Linked DNA regions of Homo sapiens: regions 2 and 3 are each linked to region 1. Evidence: fine-mapped expression QTL. A gene starts in region 1. Each other region holds a variant in brackets. All regions are shown on one strand. Distances are between the middles of the regions.

Evidence for each region. PIP is the estimated chance that this variant, and not a neighbour inherited with it, causes the effect.
Region 2: its variant is fine-mapped to the expression of GASK1B-AS1 in whole blood (TOPMed, PIP above 0.99).
Region 3: its variant is fine-mapped to the expression of GASK1B-AS1 in whole blood (TOPMed, PIP above 0.99).

The regions. Positions count from the first base shown.
Region 1 is chr4:158,167,275-158,175,462 of GRCh38, forward strand. GASK1B-AS1 (GASK1B antisense RNA 1) reads left to right here and starts at 3,478. Exons shown (of 5, transcript NR_147410.1): 1 at 3,478-4,206. GASK1B (golgi associated kinase 1B) reads right to left here and starts at 5,751. Exons shown (of 5, transcript NM_001128424.2): 1 at 5,594-5,751; 2 at 3,192-4,325. The coding sequence starts at 4,101. It overlaps LOC101928007 (a long non-coding RNA gene), which reads right to left. Exons shown (of 4, transcript XR_007058350.1): 3 at 6,840-6,992; 4 at 6,414-6,534. RefSeq lists enhancers at 3,234-3,754, 3,928-5,127.
Region 2 is chr4:158,007,676-158,015,863 of GRCh38, forward strand. All of the region lies in intron 1 of LOC105377509 (a long non-coding RNA gene), which reads right to left. It overlaps LOC124900801 (a long non-coding RNA gene), which reads right to left and starts at 2,080. Exons shown (of 2, transcript XR_007058348.1): 1 at 1,914-2,080; 2 at 1,223-1,454. RefSeq lists a silencer at 8,042-8,188. The variant A/G (reference allele first, on the strand shown) is at 4,297.
Region 3 is chr4:158,200,292-158,208,479 of GRCh38, forward strand. GASK1B-AS1 (GASK1B antisense RNA 1) reads left to right here. Exons shown (of 5, transcript NR_147410.1): 5 at 1,121-2,586. Among named protein-coding and RNA genes, the nearest start is that of TMEM144, 6.1 kb to the right of the region's middle. The variant G/A (reference allele first, on the strand shown) is at 3,214.

The DNA.
Region 1 (8,188 bases):
TTCCTCCTGCAGAAAACTCATTATCGAATTACACTAGAGTGTGATGCCAACACACCACACTGATAGTTCTCACAAGAATAAGCCCTGTAAACCTTTCATTTGCATTGTAAGGAGGCTACCAAAAACATTTTTTATTACCTCCACAATGAATTCCTTATGAGATCCTCCAGGAGAAAGCCCAGCCTGGACTTAAGACTAAAAATGTTATTACACGTCCTAAGTATTAGAAGCTGGTGGCTTCCAGTATAGTTTTACTGTTTAGAGTCCAAGGAACAAGCAATGAACGCATTCCTTCATTCATTCAAAATATTTATTGAGCATCTACTATGGGCCAGACTCTCTGCTAAGATCCAGAAATGCAATTCTAAAGAAAACAGGAAGTATCTTTGCCTTCACTGACCTAGAGAGTAGTGGGAAGGAACAGATGATTAAATAAATGATTATAATACAAATATGTATTATATAATATAATGATATAGAGCAAGCTGAAAAAGATGCTGGGTAACTAGGTAAGATCTGTTGCCTCCCTGGGTGGGCTGCAAGGCTCAAATAAAGTCAAACTCTGACCAACAGAATAGCAGTGCCCTAGAAGAAAGCTACACGCTTCCGTGGAAATCAGGGAAGAAAGACACAGTGAGAAAAAGACTAGAAATAGGTGGATGGGTAGAGATACTGAGAACCTAATGCTGTCTATACCATGACCAGAAGTGGTCTATTTATGTACTTTGCAACACTGTAACAGTCTGCTTGAGTAGAATTACATTGTGTAGAGTATTCATAACTATATGAAATCATTTCATGAGCCCCTGGAGAAACTGGCCTGACTTTGTGACTCTAAATGACTAAGTAGAAGAAGGTATCAAAGACAGAATGTTGTTTGAGATATAATCTTAGGGATTTTATTTATTAAATTGAGTCATATTAGTATAGCTTTATTAGTTTATTTCCATCACCACTACCATATGAAAGGAGAGAGAAATATCCAGGCTATATTGAGATCATAAACCCCGCCTTCAAATGAATTTTTGTTCTCAAAGATGCTGGAAATTCAGAGCAAAGAATTAAATATCTAAGAGGGATTGGGATTACAAAAGTTTAATTGAGCAGTTTTAGTCATAGTCCTATCACGTAACGAAGTAACACATGAGACTTGGAGATTATGTGAGGAATTCAATGAACTTGGTACCTCATGTGCTTGGTACAATAATAATAATAATAACCAATATTTATTGAAGGTTTATCTTGTGGCAAATACTGGTTCTAAGTGTTTTCCCTGTATTAACTAACAACAATCTCATATGGTAGGCAGTATTGTCATTTTACAGCTGAGGAAACTGAGGCATAAAGAGACATGGCAACATTTCCAAGTCGTATGATTGGTAAGTTCAAACCTAGTCAGTCCAACTCCACGGCCCAGGCTCTTAGCCACTACTGCATTCTCCCAATACAGTAGTCTAAGAGCGTCTAAGGGAAGCTCAAAGGACATATCAGAGAACTCTGCCTCAGGATATACACAGGAGTTCATCTTCTCCTCTCTGGGGCCTTTATGACATGAAAATGAATGGGATTTCAGCATAACAAGGGGGATCCTGTGCTCTACTCTGCTCAGAACAGTCAGTGTGGGCCTGTTGTCCCAATGCCCACCAGCATCTCCTTTCACGCCACACGGTTCCAGTTTGGATAATAAGTTACATATTCACCTAAGTCCAGTGGCTAAGAAGTTATGTTCTGAAGTTTGCTGGGTCTATAGTCAAAACCCAGCTTAGCCACCTACTAGCTGTGGGAGTTGAGGCCAATTACTTTGTCTCAATAAGCCTCAATTTTCTCATCTACTAAATGGAAATAATAATAGTCCCCACTTCATAGCATTGTTATGAAAATTCTAGGAGCCAACACATATGAATCAATTTGTATAATCCTTAGCAAATTGTGGGCACCCAATAAAAATTCATTTTTATCAACATTAGATTAAATGTTTGAGAAGGTTTCTTACATTGGCATAACTGTGGTGGACTGCTTTATAAACTTGAGACATCAAAGCATACCTGTGAATCTGGAGCACTTAGACAAGAACCACCATCAGTAGGGAATGTCCAATTTTTCTAAGTAAATCACTGGTACTTCCAGGGGTATCCATTTTAAAATGAAATTATAATGCTAAAGCCATTGGAAATGCAGTTGGGTCTCAGCCACTCCCAGGGATTTTAATCCATTCCATTCTAGGCTCCCTGGGAACCTCACTGAAATGCTAAATTTCATGGTAACATGGAGAAAGTTAAGTATCCTTTCAGCTTATAATCTCTTTGGGGTACATTTTAGCCTCTTGGGCCAATCTGGATTCAAAGTTGTAACTTCTGGCATCATTCTGCATTCAAACATAAGCCACTGACTCACTGTACTTTGTATTCGAGCCCTGGAATAGCTTTAATATTCAGAGAATATCCTTTATATGGCATGGGCATGACCGCAGACCAGTCCTTTTGCTGGCAACTGCAGTAACTGGCTACATGTGTTAGAACCTGCCAAAATGTTTGTCACCCAAGACGGGAGAATCTTGAAAGACAGACTCAATAGATCATAGTCAGGGGCTTGATAAAACCACACAGCTAGTTAGTATACATACTGAACAAATCACCAATTTTTGCTCATTCTTTTTATTTGTTAAATAAAGAGGTTAAATCCATTGAAAAAAAAAGGGGGGGTTAAACCTAACATGGTCTGGCTCTGCGCGGCTTAAGAAGATTCCATCTGCTCAAGAACGATAACCCGCTTCCCCCTTACTTTTAAAAACTTCTACTTCCTCCCATAGTAACCTATTTAATAGTATGCCTGACTGTCAGCAAGTTCTTTGCCTCCAGCCTAGCTTCCTCTCCTCATCATGCAAATTGCCGTTGGCTTTAATTAGATTTAATAAGCCACTGGGAAGTGAAGCGAGGGAAATGGAGAGCAAAGATTATACAGTATGGGCTTACTCTTGCATGTCCAATACAGCATTTCCCTGGAACTCTCATATCCTCCCAGGCTGGGAAAATAAAGAATGCCAAGCGCATGGAAAGACACGCTGCTGCTGCTGCTGTCCAAATGTGAACCGTGGGTGGAGAAAAATCATTTAGAAAAAGAGAGTGAGGGAAAAAAGAAAATGAACCAGAATCCCCAACAGCTGCAAATAACGAAGCATGTGAATCTGTTACCTTGGATGAACTCTGCTTTCCTGCTCACAGACGGCAGGGTCCTGTTGAGCCCCAGGATCCTGTCTAGGTGGAAGGCAAACACCTCACTCATGTCCAAGGGCTGCTTGAGAAGCCCACAGGGGCTAGGGCCACAGCGGAGCACAGCGCCAGGTGCGCCCCCCTCCAGCACCAGCAAACGGGCTCCGCTCCTAGAGGACACAGGCCGGAGCCCTGCCACTGCGCTGTCCGCCAAGAGTCGCATTCTTCGGATGTCATCTTTGCTCAGCCAGGAGGGGGCGCTCTCGCTGTAGATCCTAATGTTGCTCTCCCTGGAGCTGGGCTGCAGGAAGTCTGGGCCCCCGGCTCGCACTCCCGGACCCCGCACCAACCTCCAGGGTCGCTCTCCAATCTTAACCAGGTTTGCTCCCTGAGCGTACCCAGGTGCTACAGCATCAGCTTCCCTTGCCGCTTCCTGCGGCTGAAGGGATGGTCCGACCAAAGCCTCCTGCCCTGGGGCAGCCGATGCCACTGCATGCTTTTTCCTGCGCTTGGGCTTCACGGTGCCACGGATATTGGCCGGCTTGCTGCGCTTGGAGCGTAGGGTAATGTACACCACATTGGGCTGCAGAGTGGACCCATTGCCCTGGGACTCTGGAGGGGCCAGGGTACCATCCAGGGGTATCTCAGGGAAGGATGGCTCGGCGGTGTCGCGGCTGCGATGTGGCCCCTTCTCAGCCGCCTGTCCATGCTGGAGAGAGGCCCTCCCCACCTGGCTCACCAGGAAGCCCAAGTAGATGGCACACGCAGTGCCCAGCAGAAGGTTTCTCCGGGTCCTTGGACGCCGGCTGCTCCAGAGCTTACGCACCCGCGGGACGCACAGGGAGCAGATGAACCAGTTTATGAGCTGCCCCGGCTTGTCTGGACAGGTCATTTCTCTGCCGCATCCACATGTTGAACGGAGTTTAAAGTCTGCAGTTGGCTCCTGCTAATGTGATGCATGGTTTCCTGACTTCAGCTGCCGCGTCCGCTTCGGGATATAAGTGGTCTCCAGTGGGCAGAGGTGGAAGGAAAGGGTTGGTGATGAAGCTGGGAATGTTTCTGACACAACAAACCTTTTAAATTATCAGTCTCCCCAAGGAGAAATGCGGCTTGTTTCTGGGAATGAATGGATACAGAGTTAACTGAGTCACAATTTCAAACCATTTAAGTTCCTCTACAAGAGTCAAGAAAAAAAGTAATCATTTCCTTTCATAAATATCACCACTAAATGTTTTTAAAAATAAAATTTAAAAGCATGCAAACGAGATAGATGTATAGATTTGATAGTCACTTGAAAGTAGTGAAAACAAGCCACAAAAATCCAAGAGTGTTTTATAACTTGTACCTAGAGTCATTTAAGTTGACTCTGAAGCAAAAGCGTTAAAATGTGACAAACCTGGGCTTTTCCTTTTTGAAATTCAGAAAGAACTTAAGACAAGTAATAGATAATTTTTTAATACTCTATACCTATACCATTTTTATTTTTTAAAGTCCTGAATTAACTAAGTACAAGCAGCAAGTATTAACAATAAAATTTAGAAACATATTCTCTTAGTCTAAAGGTACAAATTGTACTTCATATTAATAATATGTTCCATTAGCTTACATTGTTAGTATAATACAAAGCCATAAATGTCCATATATCTTGGAAGCAGTTGCATTTATTCTGTTTCTCTCTCTCTCTCTCTTTCTCTCTCTCTCACACACATACACACACACAACACAACACAACTCTGACTGCTTTTTATTTCTTTTCTTTCCACCGAAGTCAGCTGAAAGAAAATAAAAGCATCTCTAGTTCTGTTTTTTCACTATTAAAAAGAAAAAGAAGAAACTCGTAAGCAACCTTACTTACACAGCTGGCCCCATGCTTGGCTCCAGGAAGAATGTAATCCTTGACTCTAATGCAAAGAACTTTTAAAGGCTGAGGCATGTAAGTAGAACATATTTCATGGTCAAGAGTGTTCCACATTTCAAACATTTCAGTTCAGCTTTAAAAGCTCCCTTGAAAACTACTGATTGCAAAGCAAAACTTGGAAACTGACTGCTGCATGGTTTTAAGAGATACAAAGCTTTTAAAAACAATAGTTAACAAAATAAACTTTAATTTTAAATTCGGAAAAAAGAAATGCCGTAGAGAATCAGTTTTCATTCAAATAAATTTCCACTTATTTTTAACCCCTGGGAGCCCTCTAGTGTCCTGTTCGCAAACAGACTCAGAAATGTCAGTCTCATGAAGTTCAAAAGATCGAGAATGTTTGCTATCTTGGTGGAGCAGCCGCAGCCAAGCAAGTAACTTGTAAAATGAGGAATGCCATCACCCCTCGAGTGTCCATCCCACATAACTTGGGGTTAGAGCACAAGCGTTCCCAGGAACTACTCACCTTACCATCTTGGCCGTTTCATTTGTCTTCCACCAGTTCTGGAAAGAGAAGGCCTAGAAGTTCAGAAAAAAAGGTAAGAAAGAGTTAATATAAATGAGGAGAAAAAATAGAACAGTGAGATAAGAGTACACACAGATAAGGAAAGACATTTATAGTGTGCAATTGCACGGTGCAACAGTTCACAAAAGGAAGTCGTGGATTCTCTCTGATTGGAGGTTTTTTGAAAAAACAGGTTAGGGATTGGCCTGGGTGGTTTGCGTGTCCTAGCACAAAGGCAGGGGCTGATGACCTTGGGGTGTCAATTAGACTATGGCAAATAGAATCAAAAGGCAAGAAGACAGAAAGGGGACAGGGATTTTTCCTCCCCACAGAGAAAGAAAGTTGTGATACTGAAGAGTGGGTAAAAGATTAGCATATGGTGTATAATCCTAAAAATACTATATTTTACAATGCAAAAAGAGCAAGGAGTTGGAATATATAGGGAAGGAGAGAATAAACGTCCAAGTGGTAAATTGACAAAAATTATAATCGGGCTGTTATTTCAGCACTCTAAACTCAGTCCTTTTTTCCTCTTTAAAAGTCCTGCCACATGGAGGAATGAGAAGGAGCAATCCCAATATTGACAGTAGCCTGGAAGTACCTGGATATTTTGGCTAAACTTTGTGAGAATTCAGGCATCAAAACAATTTTATCTGCACTCAAAAACTCTTAGGCACACACTTCCATACACACAGAATTATTTTCTTGATAGAAAATGTGAACTTCTTGCAAGGAAACCATACCAAAGCTGCATTTTATAACCATCTTATTATTTCCACAGTCAAAGGAATAACTGACCTGGCTCTATAACAATTAAAAGTAAGCCTTTGGCAGAGGCCAGTTATAATAAGCAGACATCTCCTCTAGCTGTTTTTAGAGCTATTTTTTTCATGGAGAAATGCCTACGAGATAGGGAGAGTTGTGTGAGTTAGTAAATTTCGTTGACTACCTTCCCACCCCCACTCCAAAAATGTCTCCTAGAAAAAGAACAATACACTGTCCCCTGCTATAGCCACAATAGGGATTCGTGGAGGCTACACTATCTACTCTGAACTATGATATTCAGAGAATGGGCTGAAGAGGGAGGCAGACTGGCTTTAAATTCTCCTCATTTACCTCTTACGTGTGGTCCCCTGTGGCAAGTAATCTTACCTCTCTAAGCCTCAGTTTCCCCCATGTGTAAGAAAAGAAAAATAATAGCACTTACCCTATCGGTTTCTTCTGATGACTGAATGAGATAGCAGCCTTGGAATGATCATTTGAAATATTCAGCAATGTGTTTGTTTTTATCCCCCATGATGCCTCATTAAACTGCTCAGAGGCCTCTCTCCTCAGCCCAGGCCTTGACAGATAGTCACCACTGCACCACAGCAAAGCAATCATGGTAGAATTGAGGACAAGCACACTGAATTATTTGTAGCCAACATATTGATATAGCCAATACAGTGGATAAATGGGGCTTGTCAGATATAATCAGAGCACAATTTTAGTGATTCCCCCCACTGCCCATTGAAACCTGTTCTGTGGCCTGATATCTCTTTTCAACTTTCTTAAATGGAAACTCAGGCAGTCCCCATGACTTTTCCAGTCATACTTAAATTTTTGTAAAAGTTCTCCAGTTGTTAGCCATAGACATACAGACACATAATACACATAAACTAATTAATATGTTTGATTCTATATCACAGTCAATTTCTTTAAAAATTTCTTTTAAATTCCCAGAATTTCTCCAGAAGATAGCAGTCCCTCAAAAAGCATAGCCAAAATCTACTGAAAAGGGACAGAGGAGACCCATCTTACATTCTTTTTTGTTCCTGCCTAGAGCTCTTATTCCTTAACCACTCACCCAGCCGCTCACCCCACTTTGAGCCTGGCTCTGGCTGTTCCAAGGTAGTGGAGAGAGAGAAGCAATAATAGCAGAAATGGCCTTGCTACTCCATTGATACTGCTGCAAATTGACTTATAAGCTCTCCAGGTTTGGCAGGTGTGTAAAGCTGACTCTGAGATAGTTAATTCAAAGACACCACTATCAAAGCATCTCTCTAGCTGGCTGTTGATGGCCCCTTAGTCCCTTGGAACTTGGTAGCCCCCTGTTCTGTTGAGATCACCTCATCTCTCCAGGCTGTTCTCTTAGGCAGCATTTAAGCTGACCTGCAGGCTGGTTTTCTAACTTGGGCCTCTGTGTACTGCCCCACAAGTGATCCAGTGGACATGGTCACCATCATTTGCTCCAGCAACCTCAGACTTCCCAATGCAGCAACCCACCTCCCTTAGCACTGCGGATCCATATCTCATTTTCGAATGTGGAAGCAATTGCCATCAATTGCTCATGGTCTCTGTTGAAACTGAATGGAAAGGTGTTTTTTGCCATCAGGTAGCATGGGAAACAGAGAAGTTTAATTTAGTTTTAGAAAAATAAGGCTAAATTCCTTGAACAAGCGTTAGCTTGAAAATTTGTTGCCACAATATAACATTCGTGTATAACTTACAATATAATCTGTGAGTGAACATATAGAACTCAAAGTATTCATTATTATTAATATTATTAGATCAGAG
Region 2 (8,188 bases), 160 kb before region 1:
AAACTAAATGGAGTTGTAACCTACTCTTAGGCCAATCACCAAGTTTTGGCCAATCAGATGTGGCCAACTGTTCAAACCCTGTTCAAATAAGGCAAACACCAAGCTGTAACCAACCTAGCTGTTTCTGCACCTCACTTATGTTTTCTGTACATCACTTTGCTTTTTCTGTCCCTACATCCGTGGCTGTGCTGAAGTCATGGAGCCTACTCTGGCTCAGGAGGCTGCTGATTCATGATTCACGAATAGTTCTTTGCTCTATTAAACTCTCTTAAATTTAATTCAACTAAAGTTTTTCTTTTAACAAGTCTTAAAAGTGAAGCTGGGAAGCTTGCACCTATTAGCATCCAAATGGAAACACTTACTTGTGCTTGGGATAGAAACAATGTCAAAATAAGGAAAAGTGTGGATTAATAGAAAATAGATCTTTAGTGTATTCCTACTTTAGTTGCCATCCATTTGCTCCTCCATTTTCTATATTTGTATAGGTTAGAACCTCACACTTTGTATGTTAAATATTTGCAATGCCATGTAAAAGAAAGAACCTGGACATATACTAGTCTGCATTTGATTTCTGACTTCCTGTCTATGTGACTTTATTCAGTTAATTTAATTTTTCTCAACTTCAATTCCATTGAATACAAAATGGGAAATTGATACTTTTTGTATAAATTTGTTATGAATATATTAGAGAAAATGAATTGCACATAAACAAAAGCCTAGTGACAAATAAATGGCACTCATAACAGATCCGCAACTAAACATCAACAACAACAGTAATTATCAATTGTGAGTACTTTCTTTGAGCCGCATCTTTACAAATGCTATCTATTTCAGCTGTCAGGTAAAGATTAGCAAATGCTATTGCCTTGTTTTTGCTGCTGTTTTGTTTTGCCCTTATTGCCCCAAGTTTACACATAATATATTCTCTTAAGTTAAATTTTTAGATTGGGAGAAAAGGTCACTGATATTCTGGAAAGAAAACAAAACAAAACTTAAAAGGACTACACTCATTCCAACCTCCACATCCGCCTGCCAAGAACAACAAACCTCCCTTCCAGCTTCTCCCTCCTGAGCAGCTGACATAGTTTTACCATCAGGCTCTGTAGCCTCCTCATTCCCCAAAAGTTACACATTACTTCTTTGTCTTCACTGTGCCTCCTCTCTGTCCCTTTCAGAGTTCAGGCAGCTACCCCTGCCTGATATGCCTCTCAGTCGATATCAGTTGTTGTAGACATATCTTTATTTGTTTCGGTAAGAAAAGCTTCAGATTGACCACTAACCAAGGATCATGGAGAGATTCACTGGCCCTCTCAGGGCCTGCTGCTGTTAAGTTTTGGGTGAGGTCTGTCCGGTCTGTTTGCCATTTCCATCCACCAACCCCATCTATTCACTGCCGACGTGCATGGGCATGTTGCCATGTCAGAGGTACCACAAGAAATATTTATCTTCTGAGGCTAAAAAAAAGCATAGAATTATTTCCTTTTGAAATTGATGAGCTCCATTCTTGGGTCATCAGTTTTGAACTTGACACAGCAGAGAAACAGAGAACAGTGGCTCCATTTGTCGGCTGCAGCCTTGCTCCTTGACAAACCTGAGGGCAAGTTCCTCAGGCTTGTTGAGAAGGTTTGTGCTCCAATCCCTTCAACCTTGCAAACTAAATGACATATTACACACATTTTAAAAATGAAGAAAAGGAAATAAAGAGTGATAAAGTAACTACCCATGATCATGTTACCGGAAAGGGGTCCAGATCCAGGCCCCAAAAGAGGGTTCTTGGATATCACGCAAGAAAGAATTTGGGGTGAGTCCACAGAGTAAAGTGAAAGTCAGTTTATTAAGAAAGTAAAGGAATAAAAGAATGGCTACTCCATAGGCAGAGCAGCGGCATGGGCTGCTCAACTAAGGATACTTACAGTTATTTCTTGATTATATACCAAACAAGGGCTGGGCTGTTTATGAGTTTTCCTGGACAGGGGTGGGCAATTCCCCGAACTGATGGTTCCCCCCTTTTTAGACCATAGAGGATAACAACCTGATGTTACTATGGCAACAGTAAACTGTCATGGTGCTGGTGGGTGTGTCCTTTAGCATGCTAATGTGTTATAATTAGCATATAATGAGCAGTGAGGACGACCAGAGATCTCTTTCGAGGTCATCTTGGTTTTGATGGGTTGTAGCCAGCTTCTTTACTGCAACCTGTTTTATCAGCAAGGTCTTTTTGACCTGTATCTTGTGCCGACCTCCTGTCTCATCCTGTGACTAAGAATTCCTTAACCTCCTGGGAATGCAACCCAGTAGGTCTCAGCCTTATTTTACCAGCCCCTATTCAAGATGGAGTTGCTCTGGTTCAAACACTTCTGACAATCACACAGCTAATGCGCTGTTCCACTACACCAGTCTGACTCTATGTAAGCACTTAATACATAGTTGTTAAATAACTAGGTGTGCTAGATTTGGAGCAGAGAGCTGAATATGTAAAAATGAATACAGCCTAAGCCCTCAGAGCATAGGGCACATAAGTCTGTGTGAGGGAATAAATAGGGTAAGTTCATAACCAAGCAAGATAGATAGATAATAGATAGAGAGAGAGATAGACAGATTTAATGAATCTATCACTATAAGTGCTTTGAGAGAAGTCTCTACAGTGCACAAGGAGAGTATAAATGAGGGAATGGCATTTCTTTGGAGGTTAAGGTTTAGTTTTCTAAAGGGAAATGATGGCCAATGTCTGCTTTTTGTTTACTTTTTTTGTTTTTTGGGCTTTTTTTTTTTTTTGAGATGGGGTCTCATTTTGTCTCCCAGGCTGGAATGCAATGGTGTGATCATGGGTCACTGCATCCTTGACCTCCCTGACTCAAGCAATCGCCCGTCTGTCTCAGCCTCCCGCGGTGCTGGGACTACAGTCATGAGCCATCATGTCTGGCCTGCCAAGGTCTGTTTTGAGAAGAGTGAATATGGGGATCTTACACTGTGCAATATTTGAAATATCTAGAGGAAACATTATATAATGCAGTAGAAAATGCTTGAAAAAAACGTGAAGTATCTTGACAGCCCACTAAAAACACTGTATGATTTGTTTTGCCCTATATTGCAGTACTTCGGTGGCTTTAGCTGAATACGGTTCATCACAAGCCAACCTGTTAACATGCAGATGTGAACAAATGATCAAATAGAACTGAAGTTTATGGCCATTGCTTAACTCTTAGAGAATAAAAGGCAATAGCATTTCCCGATTATGAAGAATTCTACCTTTGTAAAAAATTAAACAAATGAAATTGTATCACTTATTTTCTAAAGGAATAAATTTAGAAAATATCACCTTTGGTCATAGTTGTCACCAGAACTGAATTTAAAATATTCATTCACTATCATTGCAGCCTGTACAGTCACTACAGTCTATGGTTTAAATATGGCCATTTTAAATTTGGGGGGTTTTGTTTTGATAATCACAAATAACTTTGATAAATGGTCAAATTTCACTTTTTTTATGTTTACCACATTTATTGGGTATTTTCCAATGTACCAATGCTGAGTCTTTTGGAACTGTCATTTGTAGCTGGTGCTTGTTTGACATGTGGAACCCAAAGACAGCAGAACTCTCTGTGGTCCCCATCCTAGTGCCCCCTCCCCACCCCTGCATCATTCCTGTGCCCCTCTAGGGGATGTGGCCAAGACTTTTGGAAGCCAGTGCCTTCCAGCTATAACAGTGTTGATATTCTGATATATTTACCAAGGCTCTAGTTTATACACAATCAGTTCTTCTCAAGTTGCCTCCTGCACTTATCAGTGGGACTGAAACACAACATAAAGACTACTGTCAATATTAAAGTTTTTGGCAAAGAGTGTGCACCTGAATCATCTTCTTTGTGCAGGGAGGTAGGATTAGGCACTGGGTTTGTCACAGAGCAAGCTGTTGTAAAGAAGTGAAGTGGATCCTGGAGATGGTTCTGTTGCAGTGGCAGTACAGTATCTCACCAGGTAGTGGCTGGAGTTGGCTCCAAGTCTCTGGCAGGGGAACACCTTGACACACGTCTGGGGTCGCTGGCACTCCCTTCCTCTCTGACTCCAGCCTTAAGGTGAAGAATTCCATGTAGCTTCTTGTCCTTTCCCCTCAGCTGTCTTTGCTTCACAAGGTTTTAGCCCAAATAAAGAGTACAAATCCCAAAGCCACATAGAAATGAACTTTCTGCTAACTGGAAGCTTTAAGTGAGTAAAGGTACTTTATAATGAAAAATGCATACATTTAGTTTAGGAAAACTGAGATGTTAACATGTACCTGGTGAAATAAGAAGAAAT[A/G]TCATCCTGATAATTCTCAAATTTTCTTCCCCTACAAGCACTGATCTCTAGCAAAGTGGGAAGAATATGTAAACTTCACTGTCATCATATAACATATTTCTGTTTATTAGGTGATTTTGTAGATAGTTTCAGTTTCATATTTAATATTATTTTATTTTCTGTTTATTTTTTAAATTAATTCTTGGCTCAATTTGGATCATGTGCTTTTAGAAAATTATTTTAATTATGATAGGAGACTTAAGTTGGTTATTTAGAGAGGACTCTGTTTGTTTACAGTTTTATGATCCTTCTCAAATGCTTTAAGAAACTGAAAGCCTGTAAAGCTTTCATGCATACTGTGAACTGCACACTTCAGTTCACAGAAGAGATTTAATTAGAATATGTTGATGATGAGCAGTCCATCTTTTTCATGTAGTATAATTTATTAGACATAAAGGTGGCATTATTTATACTGTTCAACCATACTTACATATATGCAAATATGAATTTAATTTGATTGTCTTGTTTAACCCTTGAAAAGCACTGAAGCCATCAATAGACAACCTTTAAGATGCTTCAGGGGAAGAGATACTTTTCCCAATAAATGTTATTGCCCTTCTGTCATTAGTAATTAGTATTTTAGCTTCATAGCTTGTTCTTTTGTCTAATATATTTCTGTAAATCTTTCATTCTCTAGCCAATCAATCAGAAGAAATTTTTAAGAGTTGATGGATGGTATGTGTGTGTGTGTGTTTTCACATAAATCAAAGTTGTACAGCAAGTTTGATTGTCATGCTGAGCTTGTCAAAATTAATCTAAGATTTATCATAAAGAAAAAAATGATTTTTTTCTGTTATATAGTTTGTGAGTTAACATAGAATGGTGGAGTAAGTAGCCTTTAGAATATACTTCCAATTCAATTAGTCCTAAGGTTTATATTACATTAAAGTAAAAATTCTCTGGACACAAACAAATATTAAGAATATATATAGTATTCTGAAAAATATGTTAATAAACTTCATTTTAATTTTATTAAATAGCACATTTTCTGTTACTTAATATTATTTAGAGAAGCAGGAGAATGAGAGCAATGAACACATGTCAGATGAGCAAGTAGAGAGGAAATTAAAGGACTAAAGGCATTGTTTCTGAAAATAAAAAAACCAGGCTATGGTCATACTGCCCTGAATGCGCCCAAACTCATCTGAAAACAAACAAACAAAAAAAAACAAACAAACTTTAAAACCAAATTTTAATATACGATAATAAAATTTAAAAAACAGAGAGAAAAAATCCATAATGTTCTCAATGGATGGTGAACAAAATGAAAACATGGTTTGATTTAGTTTGGTTTTTGTAAGAAAATGGAGTAAATTTTTCATCCAAACTCCAAATTCAATTTTGTTTAAATGTCTCTGATCTGTCCTTTAAAATGGGTGATTTCACTCAGTCTCTTAAAACACAAACACGCACAGAGCAGGAGCAACACCCCTACTCTGCAGTTGGGTAGTTGTTCTCCAGATTCTAAAAACAACAGCAAAAACAAGTTATATGAGGCCTGTTCATGTATATTACCTGATTTGGTCCTGCTGAATATAGAAGAGGCTATCTTTGCTTTGAACAAATGACACATTTTGTGATTCATTTTTAGAGCCTAGGAGAGGAAATAGACAGCAGTTGCTTTGAAACAGAGAAAGAAGACAGCCCACTCCTAAGAAATAAACCAAAGATCTCTAGAAAGTGCCACTGGGGTTGGGTTGACAAGGAAGTTAATGATAAGTGACAATAAAAACAACAATTAAAAACCTGAATTTATCCTAAGCATTTATTTCTTTTAAAAGACACTCTAACATCTTTTATTGTTTTAATTGAAGAGCTATATAATTTTCCTATTTAAATCTATTTTATTTCTCTTGCCTATTCACAAGCTCAAACAGAAGTCTTCTCCTTTTGCTATGTGTTTTTTTCTCCTTTACAAATTGGACTTCTTTATTACCAGCACAAAGCTTTAAAAATCCACATAGACCAGAGTGACCACTTGACTCATTTTTCAGAGATAACAACACTAAGCTCTTTTTATTTTTCTTTAGTTGCACTGGTGATTATCATAGATCACATTGCTTGATAGATACATAAGGCATGAAAATTGTTGGCCACAATGTACTAGGGAATGGTAAGGAAGATACTCTGAGTCATAACTAAACCATGGGGTTTAATATTTTGTTTCATTAATTTAACAAATATATAGTGCATGCTATTCTACTAAGTATATACAGTTCCAGGAACTGAGAATACAGTAATAGTTATTGTTTATACAGTAATGAGGAAAAACTTAAAACATATAATTAATAAATGCTATATGGGACCAGGTGCAATGGCTCATGCCTGTAATCACAGCACTTTGGGAGGCCAAAGCAGGCACATCACTCGAGGTCAGGAGTTCGAGACGAGCCTGGCCAACACGGTGAAACTCCATCACTACTAAAAAAAAAACGAAAATTAGCCAGGTGTGGTGGCATATGCCTGTAATCCCAAGTTACTTGGGAGGCTGAGGCAGAAGAATTGCTTGAACCCAGGATGAGGAGGTTGCAGTGAGCCAAGATTATGCCACTGCACTCCAGCCTGGGTGACAGAGCAAGACTGTCTCAAAAATAAAAAAATAAAAAAATAAAACTCTGCATGGTCTGTCTCATAATACCACTAGAAATAGTCCTAAATTGTGAATTAACTATTTTAATAGATTTGCTTTTAAAGCTGAAACATATGAAACTTATAAAAGACAATAAAATCACATATGTACTGTTTTTATTTATTTACATATCTAGTTCTCCTATCACTAGACTAAGTTTTAATCCCCAGTAACTACCTTTGCAAAGCATAAAATAATCAAATACATATTCATTTAATCATTGGATTTAATTATAATCCCAAAATATTAACTTAGAAAACATAAAACTGTCAAACCTCAAGTATCCTCAATGTTAAAGCTTTTATTTTACTTTGAATTTCTTAAAACAGGTTCAACTTTCCCAATGCCACTTGGTTAGCAATTGGCAGAAATAAATAGAAATTTGGCTCTGCTCAGAACACATCCTTTTCATTGAAACTTTTTTTTCTATCAAGGCTTTTAGTTGAATTTTTTTCAAAGTGCCACAAATATAAAAGAGAATTAGCACTATATTTTAAATATAAAGCAATACAAATAAATAAAATTGGGTTGACTATTGATTAAACAACATTTCCAGTACCTTCTAAAACTTATTTTCTTGTGACATAACTTTTCTTCTGAAAGATTAATGCTAGCTAGAGATAGCTAGTTGTTTGCCAAACACTAGGTCGAGTTGGGTATTTCTGTGTACCGAAGGGTAGAGTTGCTCTGGAAACTGGCTTCTCTCACAGCCTTGCATGAAATTAGGGTCAGATGATTGGGTTCTGGCCAAGAGAATGTGAATGAAAGTGACATGAACTAGGACTTTTCAAACTTTCGTTTTCATAAAGACCACCTGAGAAACTAGTTAAACCATCTATTCCTGAACTCTACCAACAGTTTCTAATTCAGTAGGGCTGGAAAAAGGCTGGTTTGTGGGTAATGCTGATGCTATCTGCCCATGACTCACACACTGATATACATGACTACTACTTTGCCCATATCCAGTAAAAAAAAGAGATATTTTTAATAATATCATTATTTCTATGTTATGAACGAACAAAAAAGTAACCATCTATTTACAAGTAGATAACAACTGGTTATATTCTCTACCATCAATTTTTGTTGTGGACAATTACAAATTCCATTTATTTGTTTGTTTGTATGTTTTGGACAATTACAAATTCCATTTATTTGTTTGTCTGTTTGTTTGTGTTTGAGACAGAGTCTCACTCTTGTCACCCAGGCTGGAGTGTAGTGGCACCA
Region 3 (8,188 bases), 33 kb after region 1:
GTATGATCTTAGCACATTACACCTCCCCTCACCTTCTGCCATGAGTGGAAGCAGCCTGAGCCTCTCACCAGGAGCAGATGCTGGTGCCATGCTTCTTGTACAGCCCACAGAGCAGTGAGCCAAATAAACCTCTTTTCCTTAGAGATTGCGCAGCCTCAGATGTTCCTCTAGAGCAACACAAAATGGACTAAGACAAGAACCATAGGTCCATTTCACAGTACAGAGCTGAGGTTGACCCCTTTTATACACAACCATACTTTCTTAGAGCCCATAGAATATCATTTCATTTACATCACACCTAAATTCCACTCTTTAGCAAAATCTTATGTTAACCCTATATTTTCCTTTGTTTGATGAGATACCCCACAATTGCTCTGTTGTGCAGTCCCCACACTGCAATGAGTCAGTAAACTCAATTGGTTTGTTTACAGGTTGTCCCTGGTGGTTTTAGGCTGATTGGGCTAAGACAAACCACATCTTATTTTTTAAATGTCTCCTTTAAGCAAATGTTATTATCTGTATTTTACTCTATTCCATAAGCAGAAGTGACAAAGTAGTCTAATTTTACCAAAAGATGCTTATAGCATAAAACTTTCTATGCTGTAAACATAGAAAGTACTTGAAATCAAAAAGAAAAAATTACTGTCCTTAAAATGAAAAAAAATATACACACAGAGTTGGGGTTTTTTCACTTTACTAAAGCTCAGGCTGTGCTTATTACAATAGAACAGTGATCAAAACTACAGCTTTTTTTCCTCCTTTATAATATGACCAAACAAGGGTTAGTGGCAATGAGCACTGCATCACTTAAAAGATACTGAAAAACTTGAAATACTGATGAACCTCTAACAAACACCTTCTTCCCAATCCTCACTCTTGACCTATGACCTTGTTTCCTTTTCACTGAGAAACAGAGAAAAAATTAGATGAGAATGTGTACAAGCTCTCACCACAAGATCTTCCTACCTCCTCTAACTGCACCTATATACTATTACTATCAAAGATCCCTCTGTGTCCCTAACAAAGGCTATTTCCTCTCCTTTTGCACTAAATTCCATATACTCATGCCTATGGGGAGACATTGTTCCAGTAATTATCTCCTTTCCTCTGCTTGGGTCAGCCTCTAGGATGGACCCCCATGATCCCCACCTCCTGGTATCCGCGCCATGATGCAATCTGCTTACAGCCTAAATCAGGATGAACCATATGACTCATAGAACACTGCAGAAGGCATGATGTGTGACTTCAGATGTGAAGTCATAGAGGACAAGGACACAGCCACCTTCTTGGATTTCTCACTCTGTGGAAGGGCAGTGACATTCCATGAGACAAGCAGTCCTGTGGTGAGGCCCATGTCAAGAAGGCCTGAGATCTCCCACCATCAGCTACAGCCAATTTGTCAGTCACGTGAGTAAACCACCTGGGACGTGAATCCTCTCGACTTAACCACCTCTTCAGGTGGCCAGAGCCCTAGCCCAGGTCTGACTGCAACCTGATGAGAAACCCTGAGTAGGAAGACCTGCTTGAGCTGCTCCCAAATTATTGATCCACAGACACTATGAGAGATAATACGTACTTAGTGTTCTTTTAACCCACTACATTTTGGTTGGCTGTATTTATTACCCTGTAACAGATGACTAATACATCTCCTGTGATCAAAACACTTCAGAGGTTCCCCATTTCTCTCAGAGAAATATCCAAAGTCCATAAGGCCTGTGAGGCCCCTCACATTCTTCCCACCCCCATTACCTCTCTAACTCCATTTTCTACCACTCTCCTTCTTTCCACCTCAACCACAGCTACAGTGACTTCTTTGCCCTTTCTCAAATCTGCCTCAGGGCCTCTGTACTGGACACTCTCTCCCCACTCCCACTCCCTCCTCCAGGCCTTCACTGAAATGTCTCCCTCTCAGTGAGGACTTCCTTTCCTAAACTGCAGTACCCCCAACCTACACACACACACACACACACACACACACACACACACAGAGTCTCTAGTCTTCCTAGCTCCTTAATTTTTTTTTCCTTAGCACATATCACTATTTCATATACCATATTTGTCATCTATTTTCTGGTTTCCCTTTCTCAGATGTAAGCTAAGTTGGTGCAGGGGTTTTTGTCTGTTCCCAATGTCTAGAAGAGTGTCTGATTTACAGTAGACACTCCATGAAATTTGTCAAATGAATACACCAGTGTTAAGAGTATAAGAGTGTAATAGTACCTTTAAAAATGCCTCAAAGATAAATCTTTTGATTTATCTTTATTTTTAGATCTCTACCCCCACTTTAGCCACTTCTGAAATTTACTACTAGAAAAACCTTTTCTTTCGTGAAGAACTGTCTCACAAAAATAGCAGTTAAATAGGAAGCTATCCTAACCCACTGTTTGCCTTTTCCCTTGTGAAACTCAGACCAAAATTGAAAGTCATCTATTGTAACTATGTGTTCTTGGCATCTAAACTCTGTTTTGTTTCATCTTGACTTTCTTAATTTCCTAGGTTTTTTCCTTTGTTCCTATTATTTTATTGTTTTTATTCTATATTGCTTCAAAGACTTTATGAAATTAAGTAAATTATAAATACAAATATAAGTAAGTATACTAGTCTTTTCTTAAGCTCACAACAAATTATTACAGGTATCTTTGATTCAGTTTATTATAATTACAGAATTGTAAACTTTTCAAGGAATAAATCTTTAAAATCAACAAAGGTAATATTTTTATTATTTATTGGGATATTCTTTTTTTTCTTTTTTTTTTCTTTTTTTTTGAGACAGAGTATCGCTTTGTCACCCAGGTTGGAGTGCAGTGGCTCAATCTCAGCTCACCTCCCAGTTTCAAGCGATTCTCCTGCCTCAGCCTCCCAAGCAGCTGGGATTACAGGCGCCGCCACCACGCTTGGCTAATTTTTTGTATTTTTAGTAGACACGCGGTTTCACCGTGTTGGTCAGGCTGGTCTTGAACTCCTGACCTCAAGTGATCTACCCACCTCGGCTTCCCAAACTGCTGGGATTACAGGCATAAGCCACTGTGCCCAACCTGGGGTATTCTTATTGTAAAACATTTTACACGAAAAATATACTTTGAATCAGGAGAGAAACATTTCAACACAGCATCATTATTTCTCAGTAAAATGGCACATTTTTCCTAATTTCAGATTATTCTTGGAAAATTTTGTTTGCTTCTATGATATAATAAAATTCTGCTTGAAAATTAC[G/A]TGTTAAATTGATTCCTTCTCCATTTCCAAAAAACAGAGGAAGGGTTATTTTAAACAATAAAGTGGTTGATTATGTTATCCAATGAATCAGCAGGTTTTTTACTGCCTTCACCAGTCATCATTTCTCATTATACACAGAGATCCTCAAAATGAGCAGCAGATACACTCAGTCTGTAGGATCATTTAGCAACTCGGGGAAGGAGGGTAAGTAGCCTAGATTTTTTTAAAGTTCCCACACCCAAACATCTCAAAAGATCATAAAAAGATAAACAAGTGTTCAGAGATTAAATATGGAAAATATTGGTATTGGTTTTGATTCTATAGACAAAAATAAAATACCACTTGGCAGTAGATTTCTCACTTTTTAAGTATTCTTGTATTTGGTGAATGGGTAAAAAGATAGTCAAATGAGTTAAATATACATTTAAATAAATGGGCAAATATGTATTATCAATTATCAGTTATCAACCCCATCAATTATTTCATCATATCTAAATACATATAATATATATTCCTCGGCCTGTAAAGTAAACCAACCCCGTCAATAATCTCATTGTATTTAAATATCTATTTAATATATAAATGTTCTACATTAATATATTTAATATTTAATATGTTGGTCAATATTAAATATGTTTAATAAAGACATATTTAATAAATAATAAATATATTTATATTTCATGTTTGTATACAATATTAAATATATAAATATATATGCAAATATGATAAGATCATTTAGGGGGTTGGTTTCCTTCACCAGGCTGAGAAAATAGTTTAACTGCCATAAAATAATCACAAATTTAAAATAATGACATTTTCGCACACTATTTTCAGAGCAGTTTTAGATTTATGAAAAAAATCGAGGAGATAGGAATAGAGTTCTCATATAACCCCTCTCTACTCTCTCACAGTTCTATTAGTAACATCTGCGTTTGAGTTGTACATTTCTTACAGTTGATGAACCAATATTGGTACATTATTATGAACTAAAGTCCATTGTTTACATTAGAGTGCACTCTGTATGTTGTATAGCTCTATGGGTTCTGACACATGCAAAAGGCCCCAGATGTAGTGTATCTAGGTTAATGTTCTATACGAGCTTGAGAAGAATGCGTATTTTGCTGCAGTTGAATGAGATATAACTATCAATTAAACCCAGGTGATGATGGTACTGTTCACTTCTATTATATTCTTACTGATTTTCTGCCTGTTCGATTTGCCAATTACTAATAGAGGAATACTGAAAACCCCAACTGCAATAATCTATTTGTGTCTATTTCTCCTTGCAGTTTTACCAGTTTTTGCCTTACCTATTTTGACACTCTGTTGTGAGGTGCATACACAGGATTGTTATGGCTTATTGGACAGCTGGCCCCTTTATCATTATGTAATGGCCTTCTTTATTCCTAATAATTTCCTTGTCTGAAGTTTGCTTTGTCTGAAGTTAAAATAGTTATTCTAGCTTTCCTTTGATTAGTGTTAGAAAAATATATTTTGTTGGGCGTGGTGGCTCATGCTGTAATCTCAGCACTTTGGGAGGCTGAAGGAGGAAGGTCTCTTGAGTTCAGGAGTTCAAGACCAGCCTGGGCAACATAGTGAAACCTCATCTCTACAAAAAATTAAAAATTAGCTTGTTGTGGTGGCACATGCCTGCAGTCCCAGCTACTCAACAGACTGAGGTGGGAGGATCACTTGAGCTCAGGAGTTCACGACTGCAGTGTGCCATGACTGTGCCACTGTACTCCAGCCTGGGTGATAGAGTGAGACCCTGTTTCAAAGGTTAAAAAAAAAAAAAGGAAAGAAAAGAAAAATATAACTTTCTCCATTCCTTTTGTGTCTTTATAATTAACATGGATTTCTGGTAAACAACGTAGAGTTGATGCCTGTATTTTATTCAATCAGTCGTTGTCTTTTAATTGGTAGACCATTTATATTTAGTGATACTTGATAGAGTTGGATTAATATTTCCCATATATTAATTGTTTTCTGTTTGTTGCCCTTGTAATTATTTCCCTTTTTTGTCCTCCCCTCTTCATATGGTTTGGCTCTGTGCCCCTACCCAAATCTCACGTGGAATTGTAATCCCCATAATCCCCACCTGTTGAGAGAGGGACTTGGTGGGAGGTGATTGGGTCATGTGGGTGGTTTTCCCCATGCTGTTCTCGTGATAGTGAGTGAGTTCTCACAAGATCCCATGGTTTTATAAGGGGCTCTTCCCGCTTTGCTTCCTCTCACCTGCTGCCATGTACAACATGCCTTTGCTTCTCCTTCGCCTTCTGCCATGATTCTAAGCTTCCTGAGGCCTCCCCAGCCATGCAGAACTGTGAGTCAAACCTCTTTCCTTTATAAATTACCCAGCCTCAGGTAGTATCTTTATAGTAGTCTGCAAATAGACTAATATACCTCTTTTGCTCCCTTTTCTAGTTTTAATTGAGCATTTTATATGATTCTATTTTCTCTCCTCTCTTAGCATATCAATTATACTTAAAAATATGTTTTTAGAAATTGTCCTAGAGTTTGCAGTACACATTTACAACTAAGTCCACTTTTCAATAACACTATACCATTTCACAGGTAGTGCAGGTACTGTATAAAAGATTATTCCCAGTGCCTCTCTCCTGTTCCTTAAAGCATTGCTGTCATTTATTTCATTTATTCATAAACTAATATCACCCAATATATTACTGATATTATTATTTTGAAGTTATCTATGCGATCAATTAAGAATAAGAAACAAATTATAGGTTGGTGGATTTTTCTTTCAACACTCTAAATATTTCACTCTACTCTCTTTTTCCTTGCATGGTGTCTGAGAAGTCTGATTAATTCTCATCCTTGTTCCTTATAAGTAAGGTGATAGTTTTTCCTCTGACTCCTTTCAATATTTTCTCTTTATTTTCCACAATTTGTATACAATATGCCTACATGTAGTTTTTTTAAAATTTATCTTGCTTGGTGTTATCTGATCTTCCTGGATCTGTGGTTTGATGTCTGTTATTAATTTTAGAAAGTTGTCCACCATTATTAGATACCTAGATAACTATTATTTATGTATCTTCTGCTGCTTTCTTTCTTTTCCTTCTGGTATTGCTATTACCTGTATTTTATGCCTTTTGTAATTTTCATACAGTTCTTGGAAATTGTGTTTCTTTTTCCTATTCTGTTTTCTGTTTCCATTTAAGTTTGGGAAGTTTCAACTGACATACCTTCAAGCTCACTGATTCTTTTGCAGCTATCAAAAGTGATTCTCTTTTCTATTGTAGTATTTTTTGTTCTCTAACATTTCCTTTTGATTCTTTGAGTTTTCATCTTTCTGTTTATTCGTTCTTGCACTTTTCCCAGTTGATCTCTTAGCATATTAGTCATAGCATATTTTAAATTTCCAGTCTCATAATTCCCAAATCCCTGCCATATCTGAATCTGGTTCTGAGGCTTGCTTTGACATTTCAGAGCTGTGTTTTTTCTTGCCTTTTAGCATGCCTTATAATTGTTCATTGAAAGTGAGGCATGATGTATCAGATAATAGAAAACAAGATAAGTAGACCTTTAGTTTTTATGTGTATTGGGCCAGAAGTTAGACTGTGCTTAATGGTTGTTGTAGCTGTAAGTATCAGAGGCTTCTATTTTCTCTAATATCTTTCTTTTTGTCTCCCCTATTTGTTGTCTTTGGGTTTTCCTAGAGACTCATTTTTAAGCAGAGTCTGTGTCTTGCAACTCTCTCTAGTTGTGATCCACAGTTATTATACCAAAACACTATTTATGTGGTCGTAAGATATTGGAGAGTTGATACATTCTATAATGTTATGATAAAATCTCTATTTTTAAATTCTTATTTCTTTTTAAACAATTTTAGATTCAGGAGGCACATGTGCAGGTTTCCTACATGGATAGATTCTGTAATGGTGAGGTTTGGGCTTCTAGTAAACCCATCACCCAAATAGTAAACATTACAGCCAATAGATAATTTTCAATCTGCTCTCCTCTCCCACGTTTCCCTGTTTTGGAGTCCCTAGCATCTATTATTTTACCTTTATGTCCATGTGTACCCATTGTTTAGCTCCCACTTATAAGTGAGAACATGCAGTACTTGATTTTCTGTCTGAGTTATTTCACTTAGGATAATGGCCTCTAGCTCCATTCATGTTGCTGCAAAGGACATGATTTCACTCCTTTTTATGGCTGCGTAATATTCCATAGTTTATATATACCACATCTTCTTTATCCAATCAACTACTGATGGACACTTAGGATGATTCCTAATTGTGAATAGTACCCCAATAAATATATGAGTGCCAGTGTCATTGATTATAACAATTTCTTTTCCTTCAAGTAGATACCCAATAGTGGGATTGCTGGGCCAAATGGTACTTCTATTTTCAGTTATTTGAGAAATCCCCATACTGTTTTCCGTAGGGGTTTTACTAGTTTACATTGTCATTAACAGTATATACGCATTCCCTTTTCTCTGTATCTTTGCCAACATCTAAAACTCTGTTTTCTAGTTGTCCAGAATCCCTGAGCTGTGAACTTCATAAGGGTTTCTTCTTTTGTTTTTCTCCTTATGTGAGAAAGAAAGTGTAGAAGGTGTTCAAACTGTCTAGTTGCCTTTTCTCTAATTCAGATAAAGCTCTGGGGTAAAGTTTACCTTGAGGACAGGCTTTTGTTTCTGAGTATATTTCAAATAGTTATTGTTTTCCTCCCACATGCCAGAAAAAAGAGGAAACTTTTGTCCTGTCTTCTGAAAGTAAAACTCATTAATGTGTGGATGCTCCCATATGAATGACTCCCACTGTCTCTGAGTTTTCAACTCTCAAGTTAGTCCACACTCAGCCTTCAGCAATAGGCCAAATACTGTATAAATGCCCCCCTATCCTTTACTGGCTCCAGTGGCTTTTGCTGTCCTGATAAGCTGTAATTCTCCGTATTCACCTATTTCTTCAGTTTGCAAAGAGGTGGCATGTCCTATGACATCAAT